Regions from separate parts of the Homo sapiens genome. Here region 1 is linked to region 2. The links come from fine-mapping of genetic effects on gene expression. A gene starts in region 2. The other region holds a variant in brackets. All regions are shown on one strand. Distances are from middle to middle.

Region 1 (4,249 bases), 64 kb before region 2:
AGGATCCCGGCTTTCTGACTCCCTTCCTAATATTTGTTCCCCCATTATACTGCTTCTCGACATGACCCTGTGTCTCCTGCTCCACTCCCCTCCTACCCCCTCTCCCAAAGGTGGCAAAGAAGCTGACCCTGAAGCTGAATGAGATTGATTTCTACGAGGCCTTCATGGAAGAGCCTGTGACCATCCCAGACAAGCCCAATAGCGAAGAGGAGATTGTCAACTTCGTGGAGGAGCACAGGAGGTGGGGACCAAGGGCAACCCTCTCAGCGGGGTCGGCTCCTCCTTGGGCTAGAACACACTGTGTGAGATGGGCTGGGGAAAGCTTAGCCAACCGGGAAGCCAATCTTGCCTGGAGATGAATACACTTTGGGCACCAGTGCTCTCTGATACACTGACAATTTTGCACAATATTTTATACCCCACTACTTAGCCCTGAGCCCTACACCGAGAGGGTCCTTCATAAGTGTGTATAATTCAGTGTGAGGTTGATTGAGACTTAAATAATCTCTGTCAACAAATGAGTGTTGACTGCCTGTGGTGGGGCAGGAACTGCAAGGTACTTTCCATCTCTATGATTATATTAAGTCCTTTTAACCTCAGTGAAAGTTTCTACAGGTAATAAGTGTCAGAGCTTTTAACCCTGATTTTAACCCTGATGTGTCCCATGTTTGTTCTTTTTTTCTTCTTCTTCTTTTTTTTTTTTTCTTCCGAGACCGAGTCTTACTCTATCCCCTAGGCTGGAGCACAGTGGCGCCATCTTGGCTCACTGCAGCCTCCGCCTCCCAGGTTCAAGCGATTCTCCTTCCTCAGCCTCCCAGGTAGCTGGAATTACAGGCACGCCACCACACCTGGCTAATTTTTGTATTTTTAGTAGAGATGGGGTTTCACCACGTTGGCCTGGCTGGTCTCAAACTCCTGACCTCAAGTGATGCGCCTGCCTCGGTCTCCCAAAGTGCTGGGATTACAGGCATGAGCCACTGCGCCTGGCCCCATGTTCTTTCTAATACAATATCGTACACCAATGGTTCTCTACAAGGTGGGAAGGCGTGGCGAGGTGGGCATAGGTTTTTGCCCTCCAAAGGATGTTTGGCAATGTCTAGACACATTTTTGGTTGTGCAGAGTGCTACTAGTATTTAGTGGCTAGAGCCCAGGGATACTGCTAAACATTCTACAGTGCGCAGGACAGCCCCCTACTACAAAGAATTATCTGGCTCCAAATGGCAATAGTGCTGAGGTTGAATAATCCTGCCGGGCACTCACACATAATTCCCTTCCTTCATAGTAGTCCACAGCTGGAAATATCCAATCACTCTGTCCCCCAGGCTAGCGTGCAGTGGTGGATCACTGCAAGCTCCCTTGCAGTATATACAGTACTTACTCTCCCATACTACTGGCTCCCTTCATCAAGGCAGGAACATGCTTGCCTGGTTCAACTGTATGTACCCAGCACCTAGCATAGTGCTTAGAACATATCGGGCACTCAATCATAGTGAGTGAGTGAATGAATGAATAAATTAATGAATATCCTGATGTCCAGTTCTTGCCTTTCTCCCCCAGTCTCTCTTCCAGTCCCTTTGCCCACCCTCCCCTCTCCCACCGCTTTAACCATGCAATGAGCCGGGCCTGGTGCCCAGAGTTGAGGCCTTGCCAGATGGCTTTGTTGTAGGCTACAAGCTGTCTGTGCCCTGGGCCTGACCTAGAGGCAGCCTTTGCTACAGGACCCTCTGGAGGGGGCATCCTTCTAACCCACTGAGTAATGACACTCTGTCTGTCTCTTCTAGATCAACCCTGAGGAAACTGAAGCCGGAGAGTATGTATGAGACCTGGGTGAGTGCCCCTGGCCAGGGTCAAGCCCTCAGGGAAGCATGGGTGCCAGAAGACTCAAGTCCTAGAAAAACCCCACCCTACTGCTCCTCAGGCCCATTTTTAGAAAAAACAGTGCACTGACCAGCTGGGTGTGGTGGCTCATGCCTGTAATCCCAGCACTTTGGGAGGCCAAGG[T/C]GGGTGGATCACGAGGTCAGGAGATCGAGACCATCCTGGCTAACACAGTGAAACCCCATCTCTACTGAAAATACAAAAAAAATAGCAGGGTGTGGTGGCGGGCGCCTGTAGTCCCAGCTACTTGGGAGGCTGAGGCAGGAGAATGGCTTGAACCCAGGAGGCGGAGCTTGCAGTGATCCGCCACTGCACACCAGCCTGGGGGACAGAGTGAGACTCCGTCTCAAAAAAAAAGAAAAAAGAAAAAACAGTGCACTAGCAGCAACTGAAAGATTTCTACACTGAAGAATGTGTGAGGAAATGGGAGACAGACATAATTGAAGATGACAAGGGAAGAGCCTCAAGCCTGGGGATAAAGGGATTATCAGAGGAAGTGTGGGGCCTTGGAGCTGAAAGGAGTGTCACTTGGAAAAAGGTCACCATCACAAGAATATATATGGCCAGGCGCAGTGGCTCACGCCTGTAATCCCAGCACTTTGGGAGGCTGAGGCAGGCAGATCATCTGAGGTCAGGAGTTTGAGACCAGCCCGATCAACAAGGTGAAACAATGTTGTACTAAAAATACAAAATTAGCCAGGTGTGGTGGCGCATGGCTGTAATCCCAGCTACTCAGGAGGCTGAGGCAGGAGAATCGCTTGAACCCGGGAGGCGGAGGTTGCAGTGAGCCGAGATCGCGCCATTGCACTCTACCCTGGGGGACAGAGTGAAACTCTGTCTCAAAAACAAAAAAAAACAAACCCCAAAAAACGAAAGAATATATCTGGTCCTGAAGCTGGATTTCCACAAAATTGAGGTTCAATGAACATCTAGGATCTGTTCTGGGCTCCTCAACTTCAGGGAGTATAGTAAGGTCTTCTCCAAAACCCTGTTCTCCTTCTTACCCCCTGACAGGAGGATGATATGGATGGAATCCACATTGTGGCCTTCGCAGAGGAAGCTGATCCTGGTGAGGGAGGAATACCGGGTTGGACTGGAGGGAAGGCAGGGGGAGGTGGGTGTGTTTATTGGAGCATGGGCCTCACTAGGAGGCTTTCCTGGGAGTTTGCAAACAGCCTAGGGCTAGACATGTGAAGCTTGGGGAGCAGGGAGGTAGCTCTGCACTCCTGTTTCACCTGGGTCCCTTTCCTCTCTACACACCTCATACCTTGTACTTGTGTTCCCTCCAAGATGGTTTCGAGTTCTTAGAGACTCTCAAGGCTGTGGCCCAAGATAACACTGAAAACCCAGATCTTAGCATCATCTGGATTGACCCTGATGACTTCCCCCTGGTAAGAGGCACAGCTCAGGCACTGCTATCTTAAGGTGGGGCCTTGGACTGTGACATCTTCTTAGTGAGGGCTTTGTTTCAGAGGTCCCATCCCCACCTCCTAGCTGGGGGGCCCTGGGAGGGTATGCGTGTTGCATGCTTAAGGGCACTGTTGGCATGGAGGGCATCCTGAGCAAGGGGAAACAGGACGGACATCACACACATTCCCAGAGCAGAGGCTGGATGGGTAGCTCAGGTGCTAGGGCTGACTCCTAAAGAAAACCAATGTTGTGAGGCACAATAGTCCTGCACATGGGTATACACACTCAATCATAGAATCATAGCACAGAGATTCCCTGTTTCAGGAGATGATTTTGTTCTCAGCTACATTCCCAACACCTAGCACTCGCTGTTGAATGAGTAACTGAAAGAACAAAGAGAAACGTGAGAAACATTGGCACTTACCAGGTATACTTGCCTTATTTTAGAAATGTAAGATCTGAGGGCCAGAGAGAAGTGACTTGACCTTGAACACAAGGATCTGATCCAGGATCAGAACAGGGTTTCCTATCCAGTTTTCCTCAGAAAAGAGGGGCCAGTGCACCCAGCTGACCCTCCCGATTCTCTCCCTTTAGGATTTCTCCTCTTTTGTTGTTTAGTTCTACCCTTGCCTTGATGCCCTCACAGGTGGACCTGTCCCCATCCACTGCCAGTTCGCACTGTCCCCTCTCCATCCCTGGGCTGACCCTCACACTCATCCTCCTGGATTCATGTGCTCCCTAGTATCTATTAAGTTGCTGTATTTTGATCTCTCTACAGCTGGTCCCATACTGGGAGAAGACGTTTGACATCGACTTGTCAGCCCCACAAATAGGAGTCGTCAATGTTACTGATGTGAGTTTCCTGTCCTCATCCCGGGTTGACCCCCGACTCTACTTCCTAGCATAGCTAGCTCTCCTCCTCTCTGCTAACTAGGAGTTGGGCCCTTCTCACAGGACGCAGAC
Region 2 (4,249 bases):
AGACAACTCTAGGTGGGCACTTACAAAGGACACGTCTAAGCTGACCAATTAAAAATCAGTTGGGAAAATTAACCAGAAAAATGTGTTCTAAGGCAAAATGTAAAAGAAGCATAAATTAACGTATAACTTATTCAAAGCTGTATCAATGATGTGCAAAAAAAAAAAACCAAAAAACAACATTTTTTGAGTGTGTACCACGTGTTCTTAGATTACTAAGAGCTTTAAATAGATTCCCTATAATACTAACAATGACCCTGGGAGGTAAGTGGTATTATCACACTTTTAGAGTTGTGGAAATTAAGAGTCAGAGAAGTTTAAGTAACTTGCTCAAGGTCACATGGCTAAGAAATATTAGTCTAGTATTTAAACCTTAAAATTAAATTAAAAGTCTGTCCAATCTCTAAAGACTGTACTTTTCTCTTTATATCTTACTGATACACATATACACCATCACTAATAATTTTATTCCAGTCCATGATGAGCATTTTCTAATTCAGTCATCAGATGGAATAAAACTCACCAGTGTCACTCAATATTTTCCTACTACAAATCATAAAGATATTAGGAATTGGCCAGGCCTACCTTCCAGTCACTTAGCTTTTCTGTCACATGCCATGAGCCTCTAGTCTCTGCTACCAGAAACCTGAAAGCCTCACGAAAACTGCATTTATAAGTATGTTCTGACTCCCTTTTTGGCACCAACCCATGCTGCTGAATGCCCAGGATGTTTCTTCTGCTAACCAAGAATTCTTCAGACCAGCTACAAAAGAAAGAGCAGCCACTATTTTTTTTTTTTTTTTACAAAAAATTTCCCACTATATCCTAAAAAGTCGGAATTCTGAAATAGACTGGACTCAGACACCAACTAAAGGCAGCATCACTCATCACTCCCCAGCTTTTAGTCACAAGCAGCTAAATATTCTCCTCTAAATACCAAGGGATGACAACCCGAAGCTGTGAGAGGGGAAGAGACCTGATTTGACAACAGGATGAACAGAACTCAGGCAAACTAAGTTCCAGTTTTTAACAACGTAAAAAATATGATCGACACAAAGACAAAATACAAGGAAAATGAATAAAGAAGAAAAGAAGACATGGGGCAGGGGGCACACATTCACTTCTAGGCTTAAGTCATTTGGAGATACACAGCAATAGTTTAGGACAGAAAGACAAGAAGCCCACAGACAATTAAACTTGTAAAAGTAATTCAACCAGAGCTGGAACAAAGCCAAGAACAACACTCAAGCTCTTTGGGAAACTGGTAGGAATTTTATGACTTTAGTGGTCAGCAGTTGAGCATCAGCGCAGTCTGTCTTGAACTCAAGAATTTTAATGCCTCCAACTCCCACTCACCTTTCCTCCTTTTATCACTGAAGTAAGGCCAGGCTGAGCTCCTGAGAAAATAGGTCTGTAGATTCACTGAAGGACTGAGAAAAGTTAAAATTTACATGGCAAAGGTGTGTCTTCTACTGAACATAATAAAAATATTTATGAATACACTTTAGTATTTTTAGGCCTTCTCAAAACTACTTAAAAGCAGAATACTTTATCTAATTCTAATTACTGAACAAATAACCCACACACATATGGAAATAAAATGAACCAACATGAAGATTAGAAGCCAGGCAAGTAATCTCCCAGCTCCACTAAAACGTAAAGTCATTTAAAAGGATAACCTGAATCTTTTCAACGCTAAACCATAACCAAACAACCTCTCAACAAGAAGCCACAGAGCAGGGGGGGAAATCCCGGAGAGAATGTGATAGCGCTAGTGCCGGTTTGTTTACAGAGACTCCAGTAACAATCATGAGTCAGAAATTCAAGCCACCAGATGCTTTCCAACTAACAGGGACCAAATGGGACCGTTCTAAGATATCCTAAAAGATTTGGGAGTTAGAGGAGGTAAACTAAGATAATTATATTACAAAGGGTACAAGACCACAAGACAACAACCGACTCCGGAATTCTTGGACCTCCGCCTTCCGTACAAGGTGCTGGGCCTGGGAACTTGGGATGGGGGAGGGGGACACATTGCGCGGTGGCCCTGAGGTGACGGGGAGACGCAGGGCGAGCCGTGTCCCTCAATCTAAGGGGAGAAATAGGAGCGCACACATGGGTCACCCAACGAAGCAAGGCGTCCCTGTGAACTGTGCGGCTGGCTCTTGGGGGCAACACCAGGGCTGACCTGAGGAAAGGGCAACCAGTACTCCCAGCGATGACTTCGGGTCGGCGGAAGGAAAAGACCTGAGCGCTAAGAGCTTGGGATACGGGTCAGGCCCATCCTTAGGGGAAACCGGCTGGGAAGCGAGGGGGGGCGCAGGCCGAGCCGGAACGAGACACAGACCGGGTAGGTCAAGGGAGGGGGGGTGTCCGGCTGGGGCAGTTACAAGCACGGGAATCGGCGAGGCTCAGCAGCCCGCTTCCCGTCTTGGGTCATCCTTCTGCTAGCGGCTGCTCCGACTGTTCCAGGCCCAGCCGCCCCGTCCACTGCCACCACCAACGCCGCCGCCATCTTACACTGGCCAGCGGCCGCCACCACCACCGCCTCCGCTCTCTGCGCTTGCGCCTGCGCTGCCACGCTTTCCGGCCCCGTTTGCGACGATGTGCTCGAGAAGACTGAGGGAAGAGTGGTCGCGCGAGCTCACGGCTCGCAACCCTCCTCGAAGGACGCACAAGGGGCGGGGCTTAAGGCCAACGGAAAACAGAGCGAGAGGCGCCTGCGCATTACCGAAGAGGCAAAGTTGTTTTTGTAGTTTCTTCGGGCTTGCTTATCTTGTGATACTCTAAACAAATGCGAGTTAGGGGCTACCCAGAGTTGTGATAGAAATAAACTAAATTTCCAGCGGATTGGCAGGCCACTTCCTGGATGATGGCCAGTTTTGCCGTTTTTGAACACTGGAACGAGCAATGATTGCCACAAGGATTTCTTCTGAAAATCCCCGTTTCCTTTCAGGGCTTTGTTTCCTTAAGTGGTTTCTATACTATCGAGGCCCATTTTCCCCTGAGAGTCCCCATTTACGTATTTTTAAAGAAGGGGCTCAGTAGCTTGAGGTGTAGCTATTCCAGAAGCTCTTTTCTGAAGAGAGGTGGTGTGGGTAAAGGTTCCCAAGAGTGGGCCGGGTGATGTGGGGTGACTTTTGTACTCTGTTTCGTTATGACACCTACAGTAACCCTGCAGAGGATTACTCCCAGCTGCCAGGCTGGGGTATTTTTTTTTTTTTTCTTACCAGAAGCCCAGGGTGCAAAAATCTGACCCTTTCTCACCTCCCCTACCGCTACTCTCCTATTCCAAGTCATTACATATTACTTAAGACTACCGCAATAGAAACTTACCTCGTTTGTCTACTTCCATTATTGCCATTACAGTTAAACATAAGGCAGCCAGAGTGCTTTTTAAAAATGTAAGGTCTGGCCGGGCGCGGTGGCTCATGCCTGTAATCCTAGCACTTTGGGAGGCGGATGTGGGCGGATCACTTGAGGTCAGGAGTTCGAAACTCGTTTGAAACCAGGCCAACATGGTGAAACCCGTCTCTACGAAAAATACAAAAAAAAAAAAAAATTACCCGGCATGGTGGAGCGCGCCTGCAATCCCAGCTACTTGGGAGGCTGAGGCAGGAGAATTGCTTGAACCCGGAGGCGGAGGTTGCAGTGAGCTGAGATCGCACCACTGCACTCCAGGCTGGGCAATGGAATGAGACTCCGTCTCAAAAAAAAAGTAATGTCGTATTATTTCCCCAGTCCCCACCCTGCTCAAAACCTCCAATTCCCATCACATAATAAAAGTCAAAAGTATGATAGCCTTAGAGGCCATCAAAAAATGAATTGCCTCTAAGGAGGACCCTACATGATCTGATCTAGCACCTGCCTATTTATCTGATTCATCTCCTCCCACACTGCCTAGCTCTGCTCTAGCCTCACTAGCCTTACTGTCACTCCAGTCAAAGCATGTCCCAGCCCTAGGGTTTTTTTCCTTTTCTTGGAATGTCCATCTACTAGATATTTACTAGACTTGAGGTGTCTATTGAAATCCTACTTCCTAACACAGGCAGCTCTTGACTATTGTAACTAAAATGGAACCTCATGTCATCCTCCTCTATCCCCTTACTCTGCACTGTTTTTTTAATAACATTTTTTACCTATAACATTTAATCTAAAATTATGTTTGTGATCCAGCTATACTACTAGAATATAAATTCTTGAGGGCAAGGACTGTGTTTTTATCATCTTTGTAATCTCAACACCTAGAAGA

What was found. PIP is the estimated chance that this variant, and not a neighbour inherited with it, causes the effect.
Region 1: its variant is the best candidate, but not a certain one, in a credible set for the expression of DCAF8-DT in whole blood (INTERVAL, PIP 0.65).

Annotation. Positions count from the first base shown.
Region 1 is chr1:160,195,787-160,200,035 of GRCh38, forward strand. CASQ1 (calsequestrin 1) reads left to right here. Exons shown (of 11, transcript NM_001231.5): 6 at 111-241; 7 at 1,783-1,828; 8 at 2,891-2,945; 9 at 3,167-3,267; 10 at 4,065-4,139. Among named protein-coding and RNA genes, the nearest start is that of CASQ1, 7.3 kb to the left of the region's middle. The variant T/C (reference allele first, on the strand shown) is at 2,003.
Region 2 is chr1:160,259,932-160,264,180 of GRCh38, forward strand. DCAF8-DT (DCAF8 divergent transcript) reads left to right here and starts at 1,818. Exons shown (of 2, transcript NR_147618.1): 1 at 1,818-1,991; 2 at 2,470-2,847. DCAF8 (DDB1 and CUL4 associated factor 8) reads right to left here and starts at 2,618. Exons shown (of 14, transcript NM_015726.4): 1 at 2,518-2,618; 2 at 1,354-1,427. RefSeq lists enhancers at 1,553-2,501, 1,673-1,802, 2,433-2,702.